Homo sapiens: one gene and its partners. The protein of the gene in region 4 interacts with the protein of the main gene of each other region in a biochemical or structural test. Each region holds a gene or a part of one and is shown on either strand. Other genes may lie near its edges. The genes, in order: ILKAP, PTPRR, DOCK4, CNKSR1, G6PC3, DGKZ and RALBP1.

Evidence for each region.
Region 1: the proteins of CNKSR1 (region 4) and ILKAP form a complex in vitro, tested with the Homo sapiens proteins (one large-scale study listed by BioGRID).
Region 2: the proteins of CNKSR1 (region 4) and PTPRR form a complex in vitro, tested with the Homo sapiens proteins (one large-scale study listed by BioGRID).
Region 3: the proteins of CNKSR1 (region 4) and DOCK4 interact in a test that uses a peptide from one of them, tested with the Homo sapiens proteins (one large-scale study listed by IntAct).
Region 5: the proteins of CNKSR1 (region 4) and G6PC3 form a complex in vitro, tested with the Homo sapiens proteins (one large-scale study listed by BioGRID).
Region 6: the proteins of CNKSR1 (region 4) and DGKZ interact in a test that uses a peptide from one of them, tested with the Homo sapiens proteins (one large-scale study listed by IntAct).
Region 7: the proteins of CNKSR1 (region 4) and RALBP1 interact in a test that uses a peptide from one of them, tested with the Homo sapiens proteins (one large-scale study listed by IntAct).

Annotation. Positions count from the first base shown.
Region 1 is NC_000002.12:238,186,696-238,190,195, forward strand, and holds part of ILKAP (integrin-linked kinase-associated serine/threonine phosphatase 2C), read right to left. Parts: intron 3,278-3,500; coding exon 3,158-3,277; intron 1,563-3,157; coding exon 1,436-1,562; intron 1-1,435. UniProt on the Homo sapiens protein: Protein phosphatase that may play a role in regulation of cell cycle progression via dephosphorylation of its substrates whose appropriate phosphorylation states might be crucial for cell proliferation.
Region 2 is NC_000012.12:70,662,239-70,665,738, forward strand, and holds part of PTPRR (receptor-type tyrosine-protein phosphatase R isoform 1 precursor), read right to left. Parts: intron 368-3,500; coding exon 257-367; intron 1-256. UniProt on the Homo sapiens protein: Sequesters mitogen-activated protein kinases (MAPKs) such as MAPK1, MAPK3 and MAPK14 in the cytoplasm in an inactive form.
Region 3 is NC_000007.14:111,727,400-111,730,899, forward strand, and holds part of DOCK4 (dedicator of cytokinesis protein 4), read right to left. Parts: intron 1,322-3,500; coding exon 875-1,321; 3' UTR 1-874. UniProt on the Homo sapiens protein: Functions as a guanine nucleotide exchange factor (GEF) that promotes the exchange of GDP to GTP, converting inactive GDP-bound small GTPases into their active GTP-bound form. Involved in regulation of adherens junction between cells.
Region 4 is NC_000001.11:26,180,491-26,183,990, forward strand, and holds part of CNKSR1 (connector enhancer of kinase suppressor of ras 1), read left to right. Parts: coding exon 1-120; intron 121-224; coding exon 225-406; intron 407-1,366; coding exon 1,367-1,451; intron 1,452-1,870; coding exon 1,871-1,912; intron 1,913-1,989; coding exon 1,990-2,094; intron 2,095-2,706; coding exon 2,707-2,766; intron 2,767-2,855; coding exon 2,856-2,924; coding exon of another isoform or gene 2,925-2,945; intron 2,946-3,238; coding exon 3,239-3,340; intron 3,341-3,500. UniProt on the Homo sapiens protein: May function as an adapter protein or regulator of Ras signaling pathways.
Region 5 is NC_000017.11:44,069,571-44,073,534, reverse strand, and holds the start of G6PC3 (glucose-6-phosphatase 3), read right to left. Parts: upstream 2,801-3,964; 5' UTR 2,570-2,800; coding exon 2,352-2,569; exon of another isoform or gene 2,293-2,351; intron 1,908-2,292; exon of another isoform or gene 1,714-1,907; intron 1-1,713. UniProt on the Homo sapiens protein: Hydrolyzes glucose-6-phosphate to glucose in the endoplasmic reticulum. May form with the glucose-6-phosphate transporter (SLC37A4/G6PT) a ubiquitously expressed complex responsible for glucose production through glycogenolysis and gluconeogenesis.
Region 6 is NC_000011.10:46,371,463-46,374,962, reverse strand, and holds part of DGKZ (diacylglycerol kinase zeta), read right to left. Parts: intron 3,477-3,500; coding exon 3,360-3,476; intron 3,260-3,359; coding exon 3,188-3,259; intron 2,889-3,187; coding exon 2,793-2,888; intron 2,536-2,792; coding exon 2,453-2,535; intron 2,347-2,452; coding exon 2,286-2,346; intron 2,193-2,285; coding exon 2,079-2,192; intron 2,003-2,078; coding exon 1,862-2,002; intron 807-1,861; coding exon 728-806; intron 565-727; coding exon 509-564; intron 360-508; coding exon 297-359; intron 198-296; coding exon 124-197; intron 30-123; coding exon 1-29. UniProt on the Homo sapiens protein: Diacylglycerol kinase that converts diacylglycerol/DAG into phosphatidic acid/phosphatidate/PA and regulates the respective levels of these two bioactive lipids.
Region 7 is NC_000018.10:9,520,513-9,524,012, reverse strand, and holds part of RALBP1 (ralA-binding protein 1), read right to left. Parts: intron 1,854-3,500; coding exon 1,504-1,853; intron 1-1,503. UniProt on the Homo sapiens protein: Multifunctional protein that functions as a downstream effector of RALA and RALB. As a GTPase-activating protein/GAP can inactivate CDC42 and RAC1 by stimulating their GTPase activity.

The DNA of each region.
Region 1 (3,500 bases), on a different chromosome or scaffold from region 4:
AACTATTTCAAGGAAAAAAAAAAAACAAAAATGCCCACGAGAAATGACATTTATTCTAGAGAGCTGCTTTTCTTTCAAGTTTTTTGGAATTCCTTTTCAATTTAGGACATCCTGAGCCATGAGAAAAAAAACCTCATCTGGTTTATAACTCAGAGCTGTTCTTACTGCCTGTTATTTGCAAGGCATGATGTAGTGTTCCCAATTAAATTTACACTCAATGGATCTGCCTTCTTGGGCTCCAGAGGTCCCTTTCCTGGTTTTAATGCAAATCCCAGGCTGGGTATGGTGGCTCATGCGAGTAATCCTGGCACTTTGGGAGACCAAGGTGGGAAGATGGCTTGAGCCCAGGACTCTGAGACAAGCCTGAGCAACTTAAGGAGACACTGTCTCTACAAAAAATTCAAAAAATTAGCCGGCTGTGGTGGCACATGCCTATGGTCCCAGCTACTCAGGACGCTGAGGTGGGAGGACTGCTTGAGCCTAGGAGGTCAAGCCTGCAATGAACTATGATTGTGCCACTGTACTCCAGCCTGAGCAAGACAGCAAGACCCTGTCTCAATGGGTGTGTATCTCGTCCCCTCTACATATGATCAGCTGCTCTGCAGCAGCCATCACCTCATCTCCATGAGCAGACCTCATCTACTGGACAAACGCCATCAGCCCAAACGGCTCCAGCACACTGTATGTTAATGACCAACTGGTGTCAGTAAAGGTACGTAATGTATTTATTATGTAATTCTGAATTATGTAACCTATGTAATATGTACTATAATGTATGTTTACAGCCAACTTAATGTCCTACCTTCTGGTTTTTTTCCAGGCCCAAGAGCTTATCCAGAAGGCTTCATTTTAGTTTGTATAGTTGCAGCTAATTTTTCATTGTCTGTCTTTTCCTTGACATCATTTTGACTTTTGTTCTTCCTGGGCCCTGATTATCTGTACTAGCTCTGCTTGATCACCATTCATACTTTAATTAGTGGCTTCCAACTCTTATCTTCTAGGTCATGGATTAAAAATATTCTCTGCCAGAAGCCGCTCAGTTGCTGGTAAGGAGTAACACACGCTGCAGAGCCATGCTATGAAGCGTCATCTCCCGCTCAGCAGGGCTGCTCAACCGCGACACTACTGACATTCCAGGCTGAACAATTCTTTGTTGTGGGGCTGCCCTGTGCTTCTAAGATGTTTACCAGCATCCCTAGTCTCTACCCACCAGATGCCAGTAACAACTCCCTCCCGCAGTTGTGACAAAAATGTACCCAAACACTGACAAATGTCCCCTGGGCGGGGAGCAAAATCAACCCCAGCTGAGAATCACTGATGTACAATCAAGTGATGTGTTAGATTTTCTAGTAAATACAAACTAGCCAGTCCAAAATGCCAGTCAGAACCCAGGAGATGTTAATGCCAGCCGGGCTTCCTACCACATGAGACTCACATGAGGGACGATGGGGGCCTACACTCCTCGGTGATGTCGTTCAGGATGACGTGGGCATCCTGCATCTCCTCCCTCTCACCCTTCCGCTCAGCCACATAGCCCTTCAGACCAAAGATCACCGAAGAGGCTAAGGAAAAGAGAACAAAAGAGCCAATACAAAACTGTGCCCAACCCTCTGGAAACCCTAGTCCCAGAGCAAATGAGAGGGAACTATGACTGTCTGACTCAGCAATATCCTAATGGCGCAAACAAATAAGCAATACCCCTTAAGGCATCTCCCCCAGCTGCAAGTCTATAACTCAAATCGGAGCACTGTTGGACAGGGTGAGCTCTAAGAGGTTGCACAGGGACACAAAAGAGGAGTCAGTGAGCACAAAACAACTCTGTCTAGGGTGTAAGTCAAAGCATCAGGGCAAGGGATGTGCTGCCATCCCAGAGAAGTGAGATTCAAATCAGGCAAAAGGATCATGTGCAAATTAGTCTTGTGATAATTGAATAAGGACAAATGCAAGTCAGGAGAGTTTATCTCAAAAGCCCTTAAGATGCCCTGAAAATATGTATTTCCATGCTCAAGGCTGGTGAAGAATTTGAACAAACAGTAAGATCAGCTGCTTTTACTTCAACTGAGGAAGAAAAGGATAAAAGATTCCAATGCAGGCAGAGATCTATTTACATTTAATGGTTAGACTCATTTAAGCTTATTTTCTGATACCTAATGCCAGACAAATAATAAAATGAACACTGTGAAGAGCTGTCTTCTGGGAAGTGACAAGCTAAGTTGAAGATGACATCTTCCCAGCAAAGCTACAAGTGGGTTTTTTCACATACCTCTGCCTGCATCATACAGCTTTCACTGAGGTAATCTGTGACAAAGGACAATGCAGTCAATGAAAATCCCACAGCTCGGGCCAGGCACGGTTGCTCACGCCTGTAATCCCAGCACTCTGGGAAGCCGAGGCGGGCAGATCACAAAGTCAGGAGATCGAGAGCATCCTGGCTAACATGGTGAAACCCCGTCTCTACTAAAAATACAAAAAACTAGCCAGGCGTGGTGGCAGGCGTCTGTAGTCCCAGCTACTCGGGAGGCTGAGGTAGAATGGTATGAACCCGGGAGGCGGAGCTTGCAGTGAGCCGAGATGGTGCCACTCCAGCCTGGGCGACAGAGCGAGACTCTGTCTCAAAAAAAAGAGAAAAAAAGAAAATCCCACAGCTCAAGAATACTTTAGTACCACAACTGAAGTATTCTCTTTAGTTAATACTTTTCGTTTTCTTCCTCACTAACTTTGACAAGTTACACAACTGACTACAAATTTCAACGGCTTTTTCCAGGCTTAGGGAAGCTGCCTACTAAGCTAAATCACGTAATTCAAAGCACTAATTGACAAACTGCAAACAAAGATTGGAAGTCAGAGAGAGACTAGGTGGTCAAAAAACTAACCATTCACTGCAGAAGGCTAAGAAAAAAACCACCTGTATTTTTTAACTCTTGAGGAACAAATGTAGGTTTCCTATCTGATCAAAGGTAGGATCAGAGATAGATGTACATGAAAAGTAGGAGAAAGCACAGAGAAACTTGGAAATTCATTTGCAAAAAGGGAACCCTACTTATTTCTTAAATACAGACATAAAAAGAAAGTATTATTAGAAAGCTGAAACTGGTTTTGCTCTGGGTTGTTTTAAAATATGAAGTCTAATACATTTGTTTTCAAATTGTCTGAAAACCTTTACAAACTTTCTTTTCCACAAGCTCTTCACTGCCATTCTTCTCTTCCTCGGAGGTTTTTCTCTTTGCTCCTTTCCCTTCAGTCTTTACCATCTGGGATATTGATGTGGCAAGAGAACCTGGAAATAAAGTAAAAGCCAGACAGAAACACAGCTGTAGACTGTTGGAAAAAGTCACTAGTAGACTGGGCTTCATCCTAGCACTCAAAGACAAGGTCATTTGAAGCAAGGACTGGCAGACACAGGCAGACCCAGGAGTTGTGTCTTCATGGTTGGCGGGGAGGGGGAGGGGGGTCCCACAGTGAGAGAACATAAAGTTAAGATCCAGGCCCTGAGTCAAACT
Region 2 (3,500 bases), on a different chromosome or scaffold from region 4:
ATTAACGCAAATTAGAGGATCACAACATCCTACATAATGAATTTTCTTAATGTCTACTTACATTCATTTAATTATACTGCATATTAATAGTAGTTGACAACAAAAAATACATGAGGGAATGATTATAGTTTCTCTTTGATCTTAACATTATTTAATTTGCTTAAATTGCATTTGTAGTACTTAAATAATTTCAAAGTAGAAATGTAATCCTCTAACATCATCTACTTTGTAGATGGCTATAGCTACATAATCTTACCTTTAAGACAAGGTTTCGAATGGTGTAGTTATCACATTCATTTACACTGATAACCAGAACCTCAACTTTTCCATATATCCCTCTCTTTTCCGGCCAGTATAGCACACATTTCTGGAGGAAGGGAAAGAGAATACAGCAAATATTAATGGCTTTTATTAGCCATGGAGTACTTTTCATTCAAGCATCTCAAGAGTTTTATATCATTAGTTTTAAAATATCAAATATCAATTTTTATAGTTTTGTAAATATACTAAAACCATTGAATTGTAAATCTTAAGCAGCTAGATTTTATGGTATATAAATTATATCTCAACAGTTTTTTTTAAAGTATCAGTTTCATATGTGCCTATTAAACACTGTCACTGCTGGCTCCATACAAAAAAAAAAGGCAGAATTACCCAAAACTCCTCAGAGAAATTAAGAACTAATTAAGAAGTTAAGAAATTTAAGAGTTAAGAAATTGAGATCCAAATATTAGAATTTATCATGTGCTGACTAGAAATAAAAGAATGTTTTCCCACAATAATTGAGGAAAGTTACATTTTCCTGCTTCAACAAACTTATGTCTAATGAGAATATCTAATATGTTAGGTGGCATACAACCAAGTTTCCTTTATATGTAAGGCAGATATAATGATCATTAATACAACTATGGTATTATATTTTCCCGGACCAACAGTTTTTTTCACTTATGGAACTAATTTACAAAAATTACGTTAAAAATATTTTTATAATGGATCCTCCTGAGGAGCTTTAAAAGAGTGACAATAATTATACTGCAAGCAAGGCAACATAGCATGGTGGTTAAGGCGCAGGCTTTGAACTCGGAACCTGAGTCCAAATTTTGGTTCTACCATTCATTACCTGTGAATCCACGAACAAGATACTTAAACCCTTTGGTTATAGTTTCTTTATTATTGGCTATCTGGAAAGTACTTAGGATAAAGCCAGGCATAGAGTAAGCACTTACAACATGTTATTATTGCTGTTGTTATTTTAAAACTACTGGGTGATAGGTTTTTGGCCCAAAGTGATTAGATCTTCATGCATTAAATATTATTTTGGTATTATTATAGTCAGTTATCATTATTAAATAAAAATTGCAAAATGAGATTCAAGCATACATATAATCTCATTTTGCTTTTTAAACAACTGTAAAATAACTATTTTTTACCACAAATTTTGATGATAAAGAATGTAAAATGACAAATGTTTATGTTTTATTTTGAGTGCTCTTGGAAGCAATGTTAATTTTAGAAATGTTTAAATAGCACTTATTTTCTCCCAACCATACATACATTTACATAGAAATTCTTTCATTTGTTGCCTTCAATCAGAACCTTTTAATACCCAGGACACTTGTTTCTTCACATCTTTGTCAAAGGCATATGAATACACTTGATAAAAATTTAAATACTTATAGATTTAAAAGAGCAGCAAAAGACTCACAAAATTATAGAACTGAAGGAAAAGTGACACAAAGTATCAGAAACACACCTCCAGGGCTCTATTATGCTAAGTACCACTACTCTACAAGCTAGCACAGCGAAGGAAGTCACTTCACCTAGCAGAATCAGTTTCTTTCATCCATTACAATAAAAACACATTTACATCCTCTACATTTTGACCCTTTTTCTAAATGAAGTAAATTGTTTCAGCTTTATTTACATGCCACCTGAGACTCTCAGGCTATCAGACCAAAAGACTTACTCTGGCTGACTTAATGTTAACATTAAGAGAAGAAACCTTTTTAAAGTAGAGCAACTCATTTCTCTCGAAATCTATGAGTTGCCAAATGTCTAAAATTTTCCCACTTTGTTAAAGGTAATCATACAAACCAATTTGCCTGGTTTCTTTCAATGAAGCATCAATTATTTCGCTGTAAGACCCGAGCTACTGTGTATCTTAAAACCCATGCCTCCCGATGAGTCCAAGAAGAATGACAAAGAATCTTGGAAAAGGTATTGAACAAAGAAAGAGGCATTCATTCAGTAGTCCAGCAGTCTGGCGTACGTGCCCCATTGTCCACGATCAGACCTGAGCAGCAGGGCCCTCTTTAGGAAGGTGGCTCTCAAAACCAGTAAGAAAAGCTGCAAAGCAGGAGCTTGCCGCCTGCACCCTGACTCTTAATACTTGCACAGGCTTCTGCACCTACTTGATAAATGGAAATGCTGCTCGCTTCTCTCCCAAGCTTGCCGGGGGCCCTCTTGAATGTTTTTTTTGACTCGTTACCAAAAAAGCAATTGGCAGTCAGCTCCCAGTAGACAATGCAATGTGACTTGTTCATTCAAACAACCCTTAATTAGCATCCCATCTCCTTTCTGAGATACAATAGCTTATTTTTACACACTGAATACATTTTTCCCTCATTTAGATGACAGAAAAAGAGACCAGATAAGTGTGGGTACTTTTGAATATGAGGTGGGGGACAGCTGCAAATGCAGTTGTTTCTAAGAGTACAAGTTCATGTTCAAATTATTTTCCTGTACAGCTTTTTAGGGTTTCTTTATTGTGGTGCTAACAATGAGATAAAAGAGGCAGAAAAGGCAGGGAAGAAAAATGCTGCCTTACAGATAATACTGTGAAACCACACTAATTGTAGGTGATTCAAAATAGCATGCTATTTAGCAGAATATAACCCCAAATCATCACTATTCTTTTGCTAGCTAGGCTTATCCTTTCAGTAAAATTATCTATTAATTCTAAGAATCCATAATTTGGAAGAAAAAAATAGGTTTCCAGAGGACAGTGTCTCTTGTGCAAACAAGTTATTATCAAACTCTGACTGAAAAGATTCTGGACATTAACCAGTGCTTTGTAACTGGTGGTTTACAGCAAAAGTAGGATGTAACACAAAGCAATGCAAATTCTTTTTTTTTTTTTTTTTTTTTTTTTTTTTTTTTTTGTGATGGAGTCTCATTCTATCACTCAGGTTGGAGTGCAGTGGCACAATGTCAGCTTACTGCAACCTCCACCTCCCGGGTTCAAGCGATTCTCCCGCCTCAGCCTCCCAAGTAGCTGAGATTACAGGTGTGCACCATCACGCCCAGCTAATTTTTGTATTTTTAGTAGAGACGGGGTTTCACCATGTTGGCCAGACTGGTCTTGAACTCCTGACCTCAGGTGATCTGCCCACCTTGGCCTCCCAAAGTCCTGGGATTATAGGCGTGAGCCACTGCGCCCGGCCGCCAGCTCATATTTTTGTGATCTTTTTTCTTCCCTTGATTCTCCTTCTGGCCCCCAC
Region 3 (3,500 bases), on a different chromosome or scaffold from region 4:
GTATTGATTCCTGAATTCTTGCTAATGGGGCACAGTCATTTGTGCCTCATTAATACTTCAGCATTTGCTCTTGTTCAATGACAAATTTTATATAGGAAACTATCAAGAAAGGAAGCGCAAAATTCAAGTAAACATTTCTTCTGGAGCCTCTTGCTTAATCTAGCTGATTGGAACTCTGAAGCAAATTGCACCTTGAAAAGAAATACAGTAGATACCACGGTGTCAGGGTAGTAAGGGATTTAGCTACCAATTCACAAAATAGAATTTTACGAATGTAGACAGCAGTCAAACAGCAAAAGCAACCTTAAAGAAGTATTTTGTTTCAAGAACAAAACAATTTCCAGTCCCAAGCTTTGCAACCCCTTAAGTATACTGTCTTGCTCGCCTGCTTGAACTTTAATTCTGATGATCTGCACTGATAAACCTTGCCTTATTTACAGAAGTCTTCTAAAATAAGGACCACTGTGTTAGGATGTGCACTGACTTAATAAGCTTTCTCCAAGTATCAAGTATTCAGTAAAAACGATACAACATTGTCACACATTGTATCGTTTGACAATATCGTATTGGTTTTAAGATTAAACTATATAAAAAAAAGTGAACATAAAAAGGTACAAAAGGAGTCTTTATCACTATTTACCACTTCCAAATGAGAAACGTTTTAATGAAATTCAGCCATACTTCATTTAACATCTGGCGTTTTAGATCAGCAACTTTTAATATTGTGCAACATGATATTTAATAAGCAAGTTTTAATTCCATTCATCGAAGGAGCTGAGTAAGTTATTAAAGTGCCTACACTAAATGTCTTCTCATCATACTTCTTATTTTGTAAACGGGCAAAGAATGCATCGCAGGTACATAGAAAAGTGACTTATAACTGAGAGACCTTGCGGGGCAGGGGCCTGGGCCGCGGGCCGGGGTCAGTCCTCCGGGCCCCATTCTCCAGGTGGCTGGATCGCGCTGCCAGAGGCTTGGGGGGCAGCGCGGGCGGCTCCGACGTGACGGGGATGGAGAGGCTGTGAGGTAGCGGGACGGGGCGCCGCAGAGTCCGCTCGTAGACGCTGTACGGGGGCGGAGTCTTGCTCTCCTTGCGCACTGGCTCCTCCCCGCCGTAGCTCGGCACGGGCACCGGCACTGGCACCGGCAGGGGGGCCGACTGTTCATTCACCTGATTTTCAAAGCCTGAGGTTTCCGACGTGCTGCACCGGCTGAGAGAAGAAATCCCACTGCTGTAGCTGCCCGACAAGACAGGGGAGTTGGAGATGAGTCCTGGCGAGTGGTACTCCACTGGAGAGGGGGTGAAAGACTGCACAGAGCCCTGCTCCGGGGAGAAGGAAACGAGAGGGAGACACAGCATTGAGTCGTGAACGCAGATGCGCTGAAATGTACGCCCCGACGCGGAGGCCCCGGCCCCCAGCACCCCCAAAGCCGGCTGCAGCAGGAGATGCAGCCTTTAAGGAGGTGATTAAGGTAAAAGGCCATTATGGTGGATCCTAATCCAAGCTGACTGGTGTCCTTATAAGAGACATTTGGACACACAGGGAGACGTCAGGAATGCGACACACACAGACCTTGCAGGAAGGGCGGTCTGCAAGCCCAGGAGGGAGGCCTCGGGGAAACCAAGGCTGCCACGCATTGATCCTGGACTTCTACCTGCCAGAATTGAGAAAATACATTCCCAGTGTCTAAGCCACCCAGTTTGTGGTATTTTGTGAGGGAAGCCCGAGCAGACGAATACACTCACACTCAAATTTGAGTGTTGTCCTTTGTAGCACTGAAAATGCACACCAGACGTTTATCTGCGAGGGCCACCAGTCCTCGAGTTCAGTTCACCGCCCAGTTTACTCCTTATCATTTTCAGATAGAGGAGAAAGGAGCTGGGCATGGTGGCTCACGCCTGTAATCCCAATACTTTAGAAGGCCGATGCAGGGATCACTTGAGGCCAGGAGCTTGAGACCAGCCTGGGCAACATGGCAAAACCCCATTTCTACTAAAAATCCAAAGGGTTAGCTGGGCGTGGTGGCTCATGCCTGTAATCCCAGTTCCTCTGGGAGGATCACCTGAACCTTGGGAGGTTGAGACTGCAGTGAGCCGTGGAGCCACCAGTGCACTCCAGCCTGGGCAACACAATGAGACCCTGTCTCAAAAAATAAATAAAGGTATCCACCAAGATAATCTGGAGGCACACATTAGTCCTATAGTTTGGAAGAGAGGGAACTGGCCAAAAACCCCAAAAACCTAAAAACGCCATAAAACCTTTGGGGGCGCTATTCACTTTCCCAGCTCAGCAGGGCATGCTGCAGGCCAGGAGCCAGGGCCGCTGAGCACACTCAGCTCAGAAGACCCAGAGAGCTCAGGAGGAGGAGCAGAGGCACCCGAGGTTCTGCACCTGATTTCTCCAGCCATCACTCCAGACTCCAGACTCCTGAGCTGAACTGGCGAACTGGCAGCCCTCGGGGCTGTAGCCTGTGATGTGAGCTGTTTCCTCAGCAGTTTTTTAAAAACCTAATTTAGTTAATTTTTAACATTTCAAATTTCACATGAAACTCCAGAATTCTGGCAGTTCATAAAGAACTAGGAGTTCTGGCCACAATGGCACACATTCTCTTAATAGAGATAATCTTTAAAAGCTGAGAAGGGCTGTCCCTTTTCACTTTGCCAGTCCCCACTATGCCACGTGGGGACTACACCCGGCCTCCTTCATTTGTGTCAGCTGTCTGGCCCCATTTGGCATCTGAGTTTGTTACTTTCCCAACTAGTATCCCAAGGAAAACGAGTCCTAAGATAGATGCTCTGTGAAAAGAGGGTTCCGCTGGGAAATGCTGCACACTGTATACTCCTTGTGTATATTCAAAACATATTCGCATTTTCAAGGCTTAGAATAAAGGAATACAAATAATTTTGTTCAGTCCAGTGTTTTCCAAACTTACTTGACTATAGACCTTTTCTCCCCCGCTTATTACATAATGTCCTGGAAAACTAGTGTTCTATGGTATACACTTTGAGAAATGCTATCTTCTTAAGCTAACTTGACTTTGGTTTCTCTTTGTAAACAAAATAACGCTGGTAGATACACATCCTGTCATTTAGTAGGAGCCTAACATTAAGGCCAATTAAGAGTTCCCAATTCACTGCTACCTCTGTCAAAAGTTAGACCTGAAATTCAAAATATGGCAGGTCAGCTCAGTCTTCGCTGTAGGGTTAGACCCACAGTTTGATGGCTGGCTGGGGTAAAAAAAAAACCCAAAACCCCACTAAACTCTTATCAGTTAAGGCAGCACACTGCAAGGCTAGTAACATGGTAGCAGTGTGCCCCCTAATGTAACCCAGGAGGTATAACACAAATGTTCGATCTATGTTCTCTTCCTTCAAACCCTACATATAAAGACATGGCTTCGAACTGCATATGGCCAGTAAAAATGTACACAGGTCTGCTGAGAGACAGTATATACCAGCTTGCTAAGACTATTTTATAGCTATTCAAACATTTTTAGCT
Region 4 (3,500 bases):
TGGCAGCTGCCTGGCAAGAACCTGCTCCAGCTCTGCCCCCAAAGCCTCGAGGCTCTGGCTGTGCGGTCTCTGGGACACCAGGAGCTCATCCTGGGCGGGGTGGAACAGCTCCAGGCCCTGGTGAGTGAATGCTGGTCACACTGGCTGCAGCTTCCACCAACCTGGGGGGTGTGATGGGGGGCTGGCTGCTGCCAGGGAGGTGACTTGCCCTCTTTCTGGCACAGAGCTCCAGGCTACAGACAGAGAACCTGCAAAGCCTGACAGAGGGACTTCTGGGGGCAACCCATGACTTCCAGAGCATAGTCCAAGGCTGCCTGGGGGACTGTGCCAAGACCCCTATTGATGTCCTCTGTGCAGCTGTGGAGCTGTTGCATGAAGCTGACGCCCTCCTCTTCTGGCTCAGCAGGTACCCGGGTTGGGGTGACGAGTGAGGGACTATTGTCATCCTTGGCCTCCTTCAGGGCGTGGGAGAGAAAAACAGATCTTGGCTCTTGTTCAGATATGGTGAGCCAGGCGTGGTGGCTTAGGTCTGTAATCCCAGCACTTTGGGAGGCCGAAGCGGGCAGATCACTTGAGGTCAGGAGTTGGAGACCAGCCTGGCCAACATGGTGAAACCCCATCTTTACCAAAAATATACAAAATTAGCCAGGTGTGGTGGTGCGCACCTGTAATCCCAGCTACTGGGGAGGCTGAGGCAGGAGAATCACTCAAACCTGGGAGGTGGAAGTTCCAGTGAGCCGAGATCATGCCACTGTACTCCAGCCTGGGCGACAGAGTGAGACTCCCTCTCAAAAAAAAAAAAAAAAAAAAAAAAGATATGGTGGAGCAGGGCAGAGGGATTAATCCACCTGTGCAGGGGCACTGGGATGCCAGAGTTCCCACCCCACCCTCCAGCTTGTAATAATCGATCTCATCAACAACCACTGAATGGAGAGCCTCCCCAACCCTGTGCACTGGCTGCTGCTTGTCCTACAGACCCCACCTCAAATGTCATCTCGGGGAAGCCTTCCCTGTTGTACACTCTCCAAGCTATACTATTAATAAATAATAAATAATAACTTATTATAAACTCATTATCCAATGTTTCATGATACTCATTACAGCCAAAGTTAAATTGATATTGATGTATGATGTCTTTACTGTCTGTTTCCCCAGTGCCTAGAACAGGGCTTGGCATGTGGTAGGCACATGACAAATAAGTCCTGTGCTAATCTCTTTAGATGTCTCAATCATCTCCTTTACTCTAAACCAAAACCCATCAGAGCAGGTATTATCCCCAAGTCTCTGAGGTGAGTAATTGGTGAGTAATTGGCTCTGAGTGGTTAAGCATAGTCCCTTAACCACTGTGCTATTCTTCCCCTGCCAGGTACCTCTTCTCCCACTTAAATGATTTCTCAGCATGCCAGGAGATCCGAGACTTGTTGGAGGAGCTGAGCCAGGTCTTGCATGAGGTAGGAGAACCAAGGGCCAGGCTTGGCCCATGCCCTAGAGACCAAGCTGGGCTAGAGCTTTTTATAACCTGTGAATCAGCCCAGGATCGAGTATGAGGATTGAGACGGGCGAGAAAGGAGGAGAGGAGGCCCTGCCACTGGGTATGGGACAATGGGGCCTGGGGTCCCCTAGCTGGCAGGGGAATTTTGACACTCAGGACAGGGAAGGAGGGGAGGGCACGTGTGGTGACTTCTGGGGGCCTGGTATCAGGGAAACGAGCCCTCTGGTTAAAACGCTGAGGCCCTGTGGTTCTGGGCAGGGGGCCAGTGTAGGGAAGGCAGGGAGGGACTGTACGGAATCCCACCCTGCCCCCAGGAGAAGGCAGTCCCCTTATGGCCCTTGCTCAGGGGAGGCCCCTGCTCTCTCATTCTACTTCCAGGATGGTCCAGCGGCTGAGAAGGAGGGCACAGTCCTGAGGATCGTGAGTCTGTGGGGTGGGAAGAGAGTGGGGGTAGGGGCGATCGGGCTCAGGCTACATAGCCCGCTCCCCTCCCCCAGTGCAGCCACGTGGCTGGGATCTGCCACAACATCCTGGTCTGCTGCCCCAAGGAGCTGCTGGAACAGAAGGCCGTGCTCGAGCAGGTGCAGCTGGACAGTCCATTGGTGAGCCCTGCCCTCCCACCTCTCACTTCTGACCCCTTGGCAGCCTTGTCTGGGCCCTGAAATAGGGTCCAGGATCCCACAGAACCCTGTGCTGCCATGGCTGGAAAGCCTTTTTTGTACAGATGCTAAAATGGAGGCCCAGAGGATTGGCCAGGGTCTCCCGTTGCTCTGCACCTCCCCAGTCCTGAGGGGCCACGCGGGTGTGGCCTCAGGTAGTGTGTTCCAGCCTTGGGATGGAGACGGGGCAGGGGCTTGGGGGCAGTTAGGAGAAAGGGAGAGGATGTGACCTTTCTTGGTTTAATCTTTGACCAGTGGGGAAGACCAGAGCCCTATCCCTGCCCTGTCCCTGCTTGTCCCTTTAGGAATGTTGCTGAGAAGCTGGTACCTCAGAAATCAGGGTCTCCAGCTTCCCTCTGGCTCTTAGCAGAGGAGAAGGCAGAGGCCCACAGGAGTAGCAAGTCCAAAGTCATACAGCAAGTCTGGGCAGGACCAGCTTGGGGTCAGCTCTTGCCACAGTTCCACCCACCATAGAGTCCTGGTGTCTGGCGGGGGTCCTGCCTATTGGCCCTGTTGCCCCCCAGCCCCCGGTGACTATAGCCTCTGCCTCTGCAGGGCCTAGAAATTCACACCACCAGCAATTGCCAGCACTTTGTGTCCCAAGTGGACACCCAGGTGAGAGCCCCACACCCTTCTCAGCCGCCCATCCCCGAGGCCTCTCACCTGCAAGCCAGGCCAACCTCAGGCCCCATTCCCCACGTCAGGTTCCCACTGACTCCCGACTGCAGATCCAGCCTGGAGACGAGGTTGTCCAGATCAACGAGCAGGTGGTGGTGCGTGAGGAGAGGGACATGGTAGGAGGTGAAGGGGTCACCGAGTGGAACCCAAGTCTGGTGGGTGGGGAGGCAACCAAGGGTTCTGACCAGGGTTGTGGGAGCTGCCTTCCAGGAGATGAGCCAGCTAAGTCTGGTGAGAGCATCCTCTGCAGAGCCCAGGTGATGGGGCCCATGGAAGCCCCCAGGAGGCTGCATGAGTGGGAGGCAGAAGTGGGAGGCTGAGAGAGAGCTCCCAGCACGAGGGTGAGAGTTGGTGGTTGCTTTAGAGCCTCCTGCCCAGGTTGATACCAGCCAGTGTTTCTGTCCCCCAGGTGGGATGGCCCCGTAAGAACATGGTGAGGGAACTGCTGCGGGAGCCAGCCGGACTCAGCTTAGTGCTGAAGAAGATCCCGATACCGGAGACCCCCCCACAGGTACCTTCCCCTGCCGCCCCCCGACCTGCCTTCAGACCCCCCCCTCCACAGGTACCTGCCCCCACCACCCCCACACCTGCCTTCAGACCCCCCCCAACAGGCACCTTCCCCTGCTGCGCCCCCCTAGCTCCCTTCAGACCCCCCCACAGGTACCTGCTCC
Region 5 (3,964 bases), on a different chromosome or scaffold from region 4:
GAGCTGTGATTGTGCCATTGTACTCCAGCCTGGTGATGGAGTGAGATCCTGTCTCAAAAAAAGAAAAAGTGAATAAAATAAAAAATAAAACTGATACAGAGGCAAGAGATTGTGGTAAGCCGTGTGTGTGCTCTGAGATACTCAGCCGTCCCACTCTACCCCCTCTCACTGCAAGGCCAGCTCTTATCATCCACAGAGAGTCCAGGACCCAGCTCTCTCCTCCAGGCCCTCACTAACCCTCCTGCTACCCCTGCCTCCATGTCCCCAGTTACAGCCTGAATTATCCACACCTAAATTATTTAGGTGAGCCTCTCAGGTCTGAAAATGGGGGTGGGAAATGGACAGAGAAGGCTGAGAAAGAATAAGGAGGACAAAAAAATGTCAAAATCCTCTGGTCTAGCAAGTGCTTGGCTGGGCCCTGGGAACCACACAATGAAGAGGCTGCTGTGGCCAGAAAGAGAAAAGATGGGATAGCAAAAGAGATGCTGGCAGGAAGCCACGTGCTGGGGAGGGATATACAGAAGGCACTTGCCTCTCCCCTCTGAAAACTGAGCCTAGTATATATACAACAAGTGCTCACACAGAAAATGAACGGCGGTGCCAGGCGCGGTGGCTCACGCCTGTAATCCCAGCACTTTGGGAGGCAGAGGAGGGTGGATCACTTGAGGCCAGGAGTTTGAGACCAGCCTGACCAACAAGGTGAAACCCTGTCTCTACTAGAAATAAAAAATTAGCCGGGCGTGGTGGTGGGTGCCGATAATCACAGCTACTGGGGAGGCTGAGGCAGAAGAATCTCTTGAACCTGAGAGACAAAGAGGTTTCAGTGAGCCAAGATCATGCCATTGCACGCCAGCCTGGGCAACAGAGCAAGACTCCATCTCAAAAAGAATAAAAAAAAAAAAAAAAAGAATGCCAGGTTGCTCACGCCTATAATCCCAGCACTTTGGGAGGCTGAAGCGGGCGGATCACCTGAGGTCAGGAGTTTGAGACCAGCCTGGCCAACAAGGCGAAACCCCTTCTCTACTAAAAATACAAAAATTAGCCGAGTGTGGTGGCACACGCCTGTGATCCCAGCTACTTGGGAGGCTGAGGCAGGAGAATGGCATGAAGCCGGGAGACGGAGTTTGCAGTGAGCCAAGATTGCACCACTGCACTCCAGCCTGGGCAACTGAGCGAGACTCCGTCTCAAAAAAAAAAAAAAAAAAAAAAGAGAAAATGAAAATGAATAGGGACTTTGCCACTTGGGGGACATTAATAGTGTCTGAAGGAGATTGTGATCTTTGGGGGACAAGGAATAGAGGGGGAGGCTTATACAGACTTTGAGAGAGGAGAGCACAAAGCAAAGGGCAATTAGGCAAGAAAGAAGTGAACAGATCACTGTGGTTCCCTTTACATAAGGATGAGGCCCTCGTGGAAAAGAGTGGAAGGGAGGGGAACTCTATGTTGTTTTTCAGCAAGTCATTCCAGCTCATTGAAATACCTCCTATGAGCCTCCCTTCCTTCCCCCAGGCTGAGGATCTGGCAACAGAGGCTGAGGTGAAGGGAGGTGTGGCTGCATGCCCAGCCCCAGGGGCCACAGGGCCTCCACCCATGTCCCTGGGATTCCTGGCTTCTAAGTCTCAGTGTGAAGAGTCTACTGGTGAATGAAAGAGAAAGAAGAGAAAGTGTTCCCTGGAAAGCAGTGCTTTAGCCCAAACTTTACTGCATACGCACAGGGAATCACCTGGGAACCTTGTTAAAATGCAGATTTTGATTCAGTAGCTCTGGCCCGGGGCCTGAGAGTCTGCGTTTTTAGCCAGTTTTCAAGTGCTGCCTATGCCGTTGGGCATGGTCCAGGGACCACACCTTAATCTGCAAGGTGTCTCTGTCCTTAGCAGCTACCGTGATGCCCAGCACAAAGCATGCTTCTGAAAAATTATAGCAAATGAATGAATACATGAATGAAAAAGTGAGTTGAGAGGTAGGACTCTCCACTACTTAAATCACCATATTTGTTAAAATATGAATTCCCATAAACCAAAAATAAAAAATAAAAAATAAATTCCCAACCCCTTGGAGTTTCTAAATTAGTAAGTGTGAGATGAGGATGGGATATTTACATTTTAGACACGCCCCTTAGGTGATTTTTCCATCAGACCAGTTTGAAGAACACTGGTCTAATGAGTAGGATGGTTGGACTCTGAGGTTTGAGTCCAAGCTGCACAAAGATGCTCAAGGGGAAAAAAAATCAGGGACTACAGAGTAGGGGTGGGAAGGCCCTTGAGACAGTTGCTGAAAGAGACCAGGGCTTACACATGACTCAGGGCCCTCGGGGGTGGGGACCAGGATGCCGGAGGGCTTCTCTGTCTCACCACTTGAAGATGAGGTTGAGCCACTCGGTGATGAGGCTGATCCAGAGCACCGCGATGCCCACACGGCGGGAGGCGTAGTAGGCCGCGGGGAAGTAGAACAGAAAGAGGATCTTGGGATCGCCCAGAAAGGTGATCCAGAGCCACACGTTCTCCAGCCAGGCTAGCTGGTTCTGTAGCGCCTCGGCTATCACGATGCCCGCGCCCAGCGTGGACTCCATGGCGGCCCAGCTGCCGACCAGGCCCCGGCTTGCTCCAGGGCGGAAACCAGAGTCCAGGCAACGAAGCAGCGTCGACCCTCTGATCTCCAAAGCCCACCCCTCTGAGCCCCAGGCCCCGCCCCGCCAGCGGTCACCACCAAGCCCCGCCCCCAGCAGTCCCCCGCTCCTGCAAGACCGGCCTCCAGCCGGTACTGTTTCCTCCTGCGCTCTCCTCCGGTTTTCCTCCCTACTGGGCAGCGCAGGGGACAAACCTTTGTAAAGGCGTTTCCTCAGGGCCCCACGTGGCCACTGTTGCAGGCACGTGGGCAGCCGGCTAGCGGCGGCACCAGTGCGGTTCCGGGTCAGGGGACTGACTAGCCGGCGGGCCGCGCGCGCTCCCAGCGTCCCTGCTCCGCTGATGCGAAGGCGGATATATAATCTCCAGGGCCGGGATTCTTTCCCCACCGGACCTCTCTTCTCCAGCACCAATACCCACCAAAAAAAAAAAAAAAAAAACAAACAGCAAAAAAATAAATAAATCTGAGATCCTTTGGAGAAAAGGCTGCAGACAGCCCCTCCTCCTGGGAGCTGAAGCGGGATCCTAAATTTGCATACACCCCTAATCAGTTCACTCCTTCCTCCCCAGCCTCAAGACTCCCCCTTTCTAATTCGCCTGCTATTAATCTGGAGGCTGACAGATAAGTCTCTTGATTTTGAGGGGTCTTCCCTAAAAAGGCGAATTCTCACATATAGCGCAAAGTCACACTTCCTTCCAGTTCTTCCCTTGCTTCCCCCACCCCCATCCTCCTGCCATCCAAAACCCTGCTTAGGCAGATGAAACCAAGAGATAGTAACAGTGTTGGTATGGGAAGAGGATTGGCACACACCCGCGACAGAGTTTGAAACAGTCATCTGGGGGAACTCACATAGAAAATAGAAATCTCAGCTATTCTAGGCGAGGTCCTGCCTAGAATACTGTTGAACAGTGTCTCCTTAGTTTCTTCCTACCTCAATCAACTTTGTTCTTGAAAAGTTTTTTTTTTTTTTTTTTTTTTGCCGGGCGCGGCGACTCACACCTGTAATCCCAGCACTTTGGGAGGCCGAGGCGGTCGGATCACAAGGTCAGGAGTTCCAGACCAGCCTGGCCAACATAGTTAAACCCCATCTCTACTAAAAATACAAAAATTAGCTGGGCGTGGGGGCACGCGCCTGTAGTCTCAGCTACTAGGGAGGCTGAAGCAGGAGAATCGCTTGAACCCGGGAGGCGGAGGTTGCGGTGAGCCGAGATGGGACCACTGCACTCCAGCCTGGGCGACAGGGCGAGACTCTATCTCAAAAAATAAAAAAAAATAAAAAATAAAAAAGGTGCTGGGCACAGTGGCTCACCCCTGTAATCCCAGCACTTTGGAAGGCCAG
Region 6 (3,500 bases), on a different chromosome or scaffold from region 4:
GGCCCCAGGGCATGGTGCCCGCACAGTACCTGCAAAGGCGGGCGATGACATGGGCCTCAAAACACAGTCTCTGCAGGACAAGGACAGCAGGGCTCCCCCCAGCTCCGGTAGCCCCCTCCTCACCTGGGGATGTTCAGGAAAACAACACACTGGGGTTTCAGGTCCTGGATCTTGGGAGTCAAGTCCATTCCATCACACTGGAGGCGGGCGGGGAGGGTGTTGAGGTGCATGTGCCAGGTGGCCTCCGCCTCCCTCCCTTCCGGCCCACCCACCCACGGCAGCCTGGCCCCGCTCACCACCACTCGGATGTGCTTGGCCAGGTCCTTGGAGCTGCCCATCAGGAAGTCAGAGAAAGCTGTCTGTGGGAGACAGAGGGCGTCACCATCTGCTGACAGAGATCTTTCCTCACCAGCACCCGGCAGGGCTCCTGGGGCCTGGTGGACACAGGTGGGCACGGGCACGGGTGGTAGAAGAGGTGGGCACAGGCGGGGGTGCAGACCCCACTCACCCCGGCGTAGAACATCTTATTCCGAAAGCGGCTGTTGAATTTCTCTGGGTTGGCCTCTGGGTGGAGACAAGCAGTGGGGGCCAGTGAGTCACCCCAGCCTGCCCAGGTGGGGTTGGGGGAGGGCTGGGATGGATGCCTTCACTGGCGGGAGCAGGGTCTGACCCTCCCGGGGACACTCCTGTGCCCACCCTGCCCTGGCCTCAGTGGGAGGCTGCCAACCTCGAGACTCGTGGAACTCCAGGGTGACGTGGGCGTCAAAGCCCAGGCTGAAGTAGTTGTTGAAGACATCCAGGGGCAACTGGAAAAAGGTCAAGGGACCAAAATGAGGGCTGGGCCTCACAAATGTCCCCGCTCCAGGGGCCTCGTGTGGCCGAGCCAGCTCAGCCCATCTGTTCACAGGCTTTTCCTGGTCAGCAGCGTCCGCTAGGGCTCAGCCCAGCTCACCCGCTGTCAGGCACAGCCCTGCTCTGCCTGGTGGCTCCTGGGGGATTTCCCTGCGTGCCTGCAGCATCTCTTCCCTGTCAGCTCCCCTAACACTTCTTCCTGACATGCCATGTGGAGCACAACAGCGAGGCTTGGTTTTGCTCACTGCTTAGAGAAGTGCCTGGCAGGTAGCAGGCGCTCAGTGCATGTCTATGGAATAAAGCAGCATCTTCTGACCAGGCGTGGTGGCTCATGCCTGTAATCCCAGTGCTTTGGGAGGCCGAGGCAGATGGATCACCTGAGGTCAGGAGTTCAAAACCAGGCTGACCAACATGGTGAGACCCCATCTCTACTAAAAATACAAAAATTAGCCGGGTGTGGTGGCGGGTGCCTGTAGTCCCAGCTACTCAGGAGGCTGACGGAGGAGAATAGCTTGAGCCCGGGAGGCAGAGGTTGCAGTGAGCCAAGACTGTGCCACTGTACTCCAGCCTGGGTGACAGTGAGACTCTGTCACAAAAAACAAAAAACAAAAACAAAAAAAAAAACAAGAAAAAAAAAAGAAAACAGAAAAACAAAAATTAGCCAGGTGTGGTGGCACCTGCCTATAATCCCAGCTACTCAGGAGGCTGAGGCAGGAGAATCGCTTGAACCTGGGAGGCGGAGGTTGCAGTGAGCTGGGATTGCGCCACTGCACTCCAGCCTGGGTAACAGAGCGAGACTCAGTCTCAAAAAAAAAAAAAAAAAAACAAAAAAAAAACACAGAAAAAACAGCATCTTGTGAGGCAAGTACTATTATTCCCATCGTACAAGGAAGAAGTGGAAGTTGGAGAAATGAAGAGACACGCCCGAGGTCCCAGAACCAGCAAGTGGAAAAGTGGGATCCAGTCCCCAGTCACCTGCCCTGCCCCCCACCAACCCTGGCCAACTTACCCGGTCGGTGGCGCCTTCATCTCGGTCCTCAGGCCCTGCCTCGGGGTTGGGCTCAGCGTGGAGGTCCCAGCGGTCCAGCTGTACCACGTTCCCCTCCTCCACGTGGGAGAGGATCTTGGACACAGGCTCATCTGTGTAGCCCTGGGGGAGCAGGCAGGGACTGAGCCCTCTGTGGCTGGAGAGGCCCCAGCTGCACCCCCCTCCTATGGGTGCTTACCCCACCCCAGTTGAGGGTTCGGGCCAAGTCGTTGCCAGTACCCAGGGGCAGGATGGCAACAGGGGGTGGCGGCTTCAGGCGTAGCTGGTCCAGGGTGGAGAGGATCCAGCCCACCTGGGGGAGGAAGAACAGAGGCAAATCAGGCCCACAGGGACCCCGGCTTCAGGCCCAGCCCTGGTGCTCGGCTGGCCCATGCGGGGAGCTCACCGTGCCGTCGCCCCCGCACGCCAGGATCCGCAGGTTGTGCACTTTGCGGTACATCTCCAGCCTGGGCTCATGGGAAGATGGCAGTGGGGTCAGGGGATGTGTGCTGTACCCCAGGAGTGAGGCAAGTTCCCCCCCATGTCCCCCACAAAACCTTGGCAAGTACTTACGCCTCCTTGGGCCCTCCCTGGCTCAGGTCGAAGACTTGTCGGGGATTGAGATACCAGAGGAAAGACTGGATGATCTTTGCACCCTGGATGGGATGGGGAGCCAAGAGACAGTCAGGCAGTGGTGGGACGAAGTGGGAGCAGCAGAGGGAGAGGGGTGTGACTGTGGGAACCAGGGCCAATAAGGGGTGAGGGGTGGAGAAAGGACAGGATTTTCTCAGGATCCCTGGGAAAGAGGGATTGGGGTAGAAGCCAGAAACGGGCTCTGGGAACAGCTGCTGGCAGACGGGCTGGACCCCAACCCCCGCCCGAGCCCTTAGCTGAGAGGCAAGGCCGCGTTCACCTGGTTGCCCCCACTCTTGGGGTTCACAAACACCAGCAGGGGCTTCATGAGCGGGGAGGGGGTGGGCCTGATGATGAAGGGTCTCCAGCGGCCCTCCTGGGAGACAAGGTGAGAGGCTGTAAGCTCCTTCCCGTCCAGGACACCCTACCATCATCCTTAGCAGGCCCCCTGGGTGACTTTGTTCCCTCTTTGTACCCTCACGTACCATCTCTGGGCCAGATCTTACCAGGCCACAGAGCAGAAACTGGCATCTAATCCTGCCTTCCTCAGAGGCCCCAGAGCCCACACAGACCCCCACCAGCTGGCAGCATTAGCTGGGGGTGGAAGTTCTGTACCCTGAGCAACAGACCCCTCTCTCCTGCTCCCCTGCAGCCTCTGCCCAGCCTGGGGCTGACCTCAGGCCCTTTCTTGCTGGACTTCCTCTTGAAGGATGCCCTCTTCTTCTTCTTGCTTGCTTTCAGAGTATTCTGCAAGGGAAGCAGGGGTGTTGGTGACGAGGTGGGCAGGCTGGGGTAGCTGGCAGACCCCAAGTGCGTACGGGGCATCAAGGGTGCAGGCAGTACTCACCTGGGGCCTCCGGGCGCGGAGGATCCAGGTGGGCGGGATGACCACGGCTGCGTGGACCCCCAGCGAGCACGGCTCCTCGATCTGCTGCAGCATGAAGCAGGACACCTTGCTGTGGTACTGAGGAGAGCGAGGGGCCGGGCT
Region 7 (3,500 bases), on a different chromosome or scaffold from region 4:
CCTCAGCCTCCCAAAGTGCTGCGATTACAGGCGTGAGCCACCATGCCCGGCTAAAACATCTTATATTCTTTATTTTCAACTTACTTTGACATATTTTAACAGACGCAATGGAATGAATGAGGACCATGAGGGAAGTGGGAGCACCACAGTAGTAAAGCTGGGTTGAGGTTGAAAGCCCTCACTCCAGAAACAAATACCTGGACACAGCCAGCATTTAAGTATGGATGTTCATATGCTAGGAGGCCAGGGCATTAGGTTGGCTGAAAAGCTACTACAAGAAATTATTTCCTACCTAAAACTTACTCTTACAACACACTTGACTCTTCTATGATACAACCATCTCTATTATATTATAGTAATATTAAGTATCAATGTAATATTTACCAGATCCTGAAATCCTAATGATCAAACTAAAATCTGAGAAACATTTTGCTTTCAAAGCGTAATCAATGAGTAACAGAAGAATCTTTATTTTTTAGAGATAAAATCTTGCTCTGTCACCCAGAGAGGAGTACAGTGGCATGATCATAGCTCACTGCTGGGCTCAAGCAATCCTCCTACCTCAGCCTCCGAAGTAACTGGGACTACACATACATGCTACCACACCCAGCTAATTTTTAATTTTTATGTAGAGACAGGGTCTTGCTATGTTGCCTAGGCTGAACTCCTGGCCTCTCGCTATCCTCCTGCCACAGCCTCCTAAAGTGCTCGCATTAAAGGTGTGAGCCACCGCGCCTGACTGAAACGCTCTTTAGTAAATGAAAACACTCTCTAATAACAGTGACAGTGATTTATGGTGACTCAGAATACTGGCCAAAAAGAGGGCTTAAGATAATAAATATAACCTATCATCTCCCTTTTTATTGGCCTGAGTAAAATATCATTAACTGCAATTAAAAGAAAACATATACTCTATGACAGCACCAACTGAGCAGCAATAAAGGAAAGCCAAGTATGTATGTCGTAAAAAGATACCAATTAACACACTACCCAATTCCCTGAAGTTCCTTTTCAGATTCAGAGCCTATAACATGTCTCTCTAGGATCCATCCTTATGAATGAAATCCTCAGGCTAAATCTTTGACCAAACAATTAATGACAGGTCCCTTTGTGCCTGAGTTTGATGTGTGTCTGTGATCTAACGAAGCAATAATGCTATTGATTAAATAACTGGGATCTCTAAAATTCTACACACGAACTCTATAACTGTAGATGCCATGGGCTCCTCCTCCCCTAATGAAGGATCCTTGTCATCAGGTCTTGTTTATAAACCCACATCAAAGACTGTACCGCATTCAAATTACATCACTACAAGCTAAAGGGCAAGTATGTTATCTTATACATTGACACTGTCCAAATTATGAAAGGAAAAGACCCGTATTCAAGCTAATCCATTACCTATCTCCTCAAGTTCACTGCTTTACATGTGACTCAGCAATAGAAAATTACCCCAGTTCCCCAATGTCAGTACCAGAGGGTATATGTGTAGAGAAGACCATGTACCTGCACAGTTGGGCTGAGCACTATAGAAATGTTCTGTATATTCATTTTTGTTTCCAGTTCCTTTGCAATGACATGGTCCATGTGCACAATGAGCCAAGAAATCAGAAGATAGTTACATTCTGGCAGTTCTTTGAGTAAACGCTGGAATTCCTGCACTTTCTCAGTCTCCGTGGTCCTCCCACAAGCCTCTTCAAATCTGGGCATAAGCTCTTTGGTAAGCAAATTCTCTGGAAGGTCTCGCAAATACTGCTTCAGCAAACTGGCTACAGTGTTAGGCTCATAGTCTTCCAAGTTTGTAGACTCCTCCCGGTCATAGGCTGCTTTTAGCTCATCCACCTTTGATTTAATTCCTTAAAACATTCAAATTCAGAAGAGAGAAGATACTGAGAAAAGAAAATCAAACACACAAGTTTTCTTTACCATTATCCCCACCCTTGCTAAGGAGATGAGAACAGCAACCTGACCAATAACGAACCTCTTGTTATGAAATATTTATCTGCACAAAGGTCGTACAGTTCCTCTGTAAACACTAACATGTAAGACTACACTTGGCTGGGCGCAGTGGCTCACACCCATAATCCCAGCACTTTGGAAGGCTGAGGCGGGCAGATAGCTTGAGCCCAGGAATTCGAGACTAGCTGGACAACATGGTCAAAACCTATCTCTACAAAAAATACAAAAATTAGCTGGGCATGGTGGCGTGCGCCTGTGGTCCAAGTTCTTTGGGAGGCTGAGTTGGGAGGATCACTTGATCCTGGGAGGTTGAGTCTGCAGTGAGCCATAATTGCACCACTGGACTCCAGCCTGGGCAACAGAGTAAGACACTGTCTCAAAAAATAAAAAAAATAATTAAAAACAGGCCAGGCACCATGGATCACACCTGTAATCCCAGCACTTTGGGAGGCCAAGGCAGGAGGATTATTTGAGGTCAGGAGTCCAACACCAGCCTGGCTAACATGGCAAAAACCTGTCTCTACTAAAAATACAAAAATTAGCCAGGCGTGGTGGTGTGCGCCTGTAATCCCAGCTACTTGGGAGGCTGAGGCAGGAGAATCACTTGAACCTGGGAGGCAGAGGTTGCAGTGAGCCGAGATCACACCACTGCACTTCAGCTTGGGTGACAGAGCAAGACTCCATCTAAAAACAAAAAACAAAAAACAAACCCAAAAAACTAACTTCAAAAGTGAATTTAACCAAAAGTTAAATGATAATTGAAAAGCTCAACAGTCAGAAGTCAAAGCAACCATGGATATATTAAGCAAATATGCCCATTAATTCAGGAATTTGTTTTTAATGTAAAAACATTACACAGTGGCGCACACCTGTAATCCCAGTACTTTGGGAGGCCGAGGTAGGTGGATCACCTGAGGTAGGGAGTTCAAGACCAGCCTGGCCAACATGGTGAAACCCTGTCTCTACTAAAAATACAAAAATTAGCTGGGCATTGTGGCGGGTGCCTGTACTCCCAGCTACTCAGGAGGCTGAGGCAGGAGAATCGCTTGAACCCAGGAGGTGGAGGTTGCAGTGAGCCGAGGTCACACTACTGTATTCCAGCCTGGGTGAAAAGTGAAACTCTGTCTCAAAAAAATAAAAAAAAAGGTAAAAAGACAAAAATTAAACTACAATCCAAGTGTAAGTCTGGCTCTACACAGGCAGCCAGCTGCTTTTTCTAACAAGTCACAAGACTGACCACAAAAAAATGTGGCTTGGTGTACCTAAGTATGTTCCAAAAAGTTGTGGGTAAATTACTTTTTTATGTGTAAATATTGTACTGTAATTGCAAAGGGTGAATTAGCTACCCAAACAAACACTTTGAAAATTATTCTCCATTAAATCATCCCCATCTAATTTCTATTTTAAAGTTTGGATTATTTTAAGTATAACCTTAATCTGAACAGAGCTGGAACAAAAAAAATAAAGTATGGGTTTCTAAAATCGTTTTGCTTATTGAACAAAAGGAAACTAAAGCAAATGATTTGCAAACATTACATAAGATT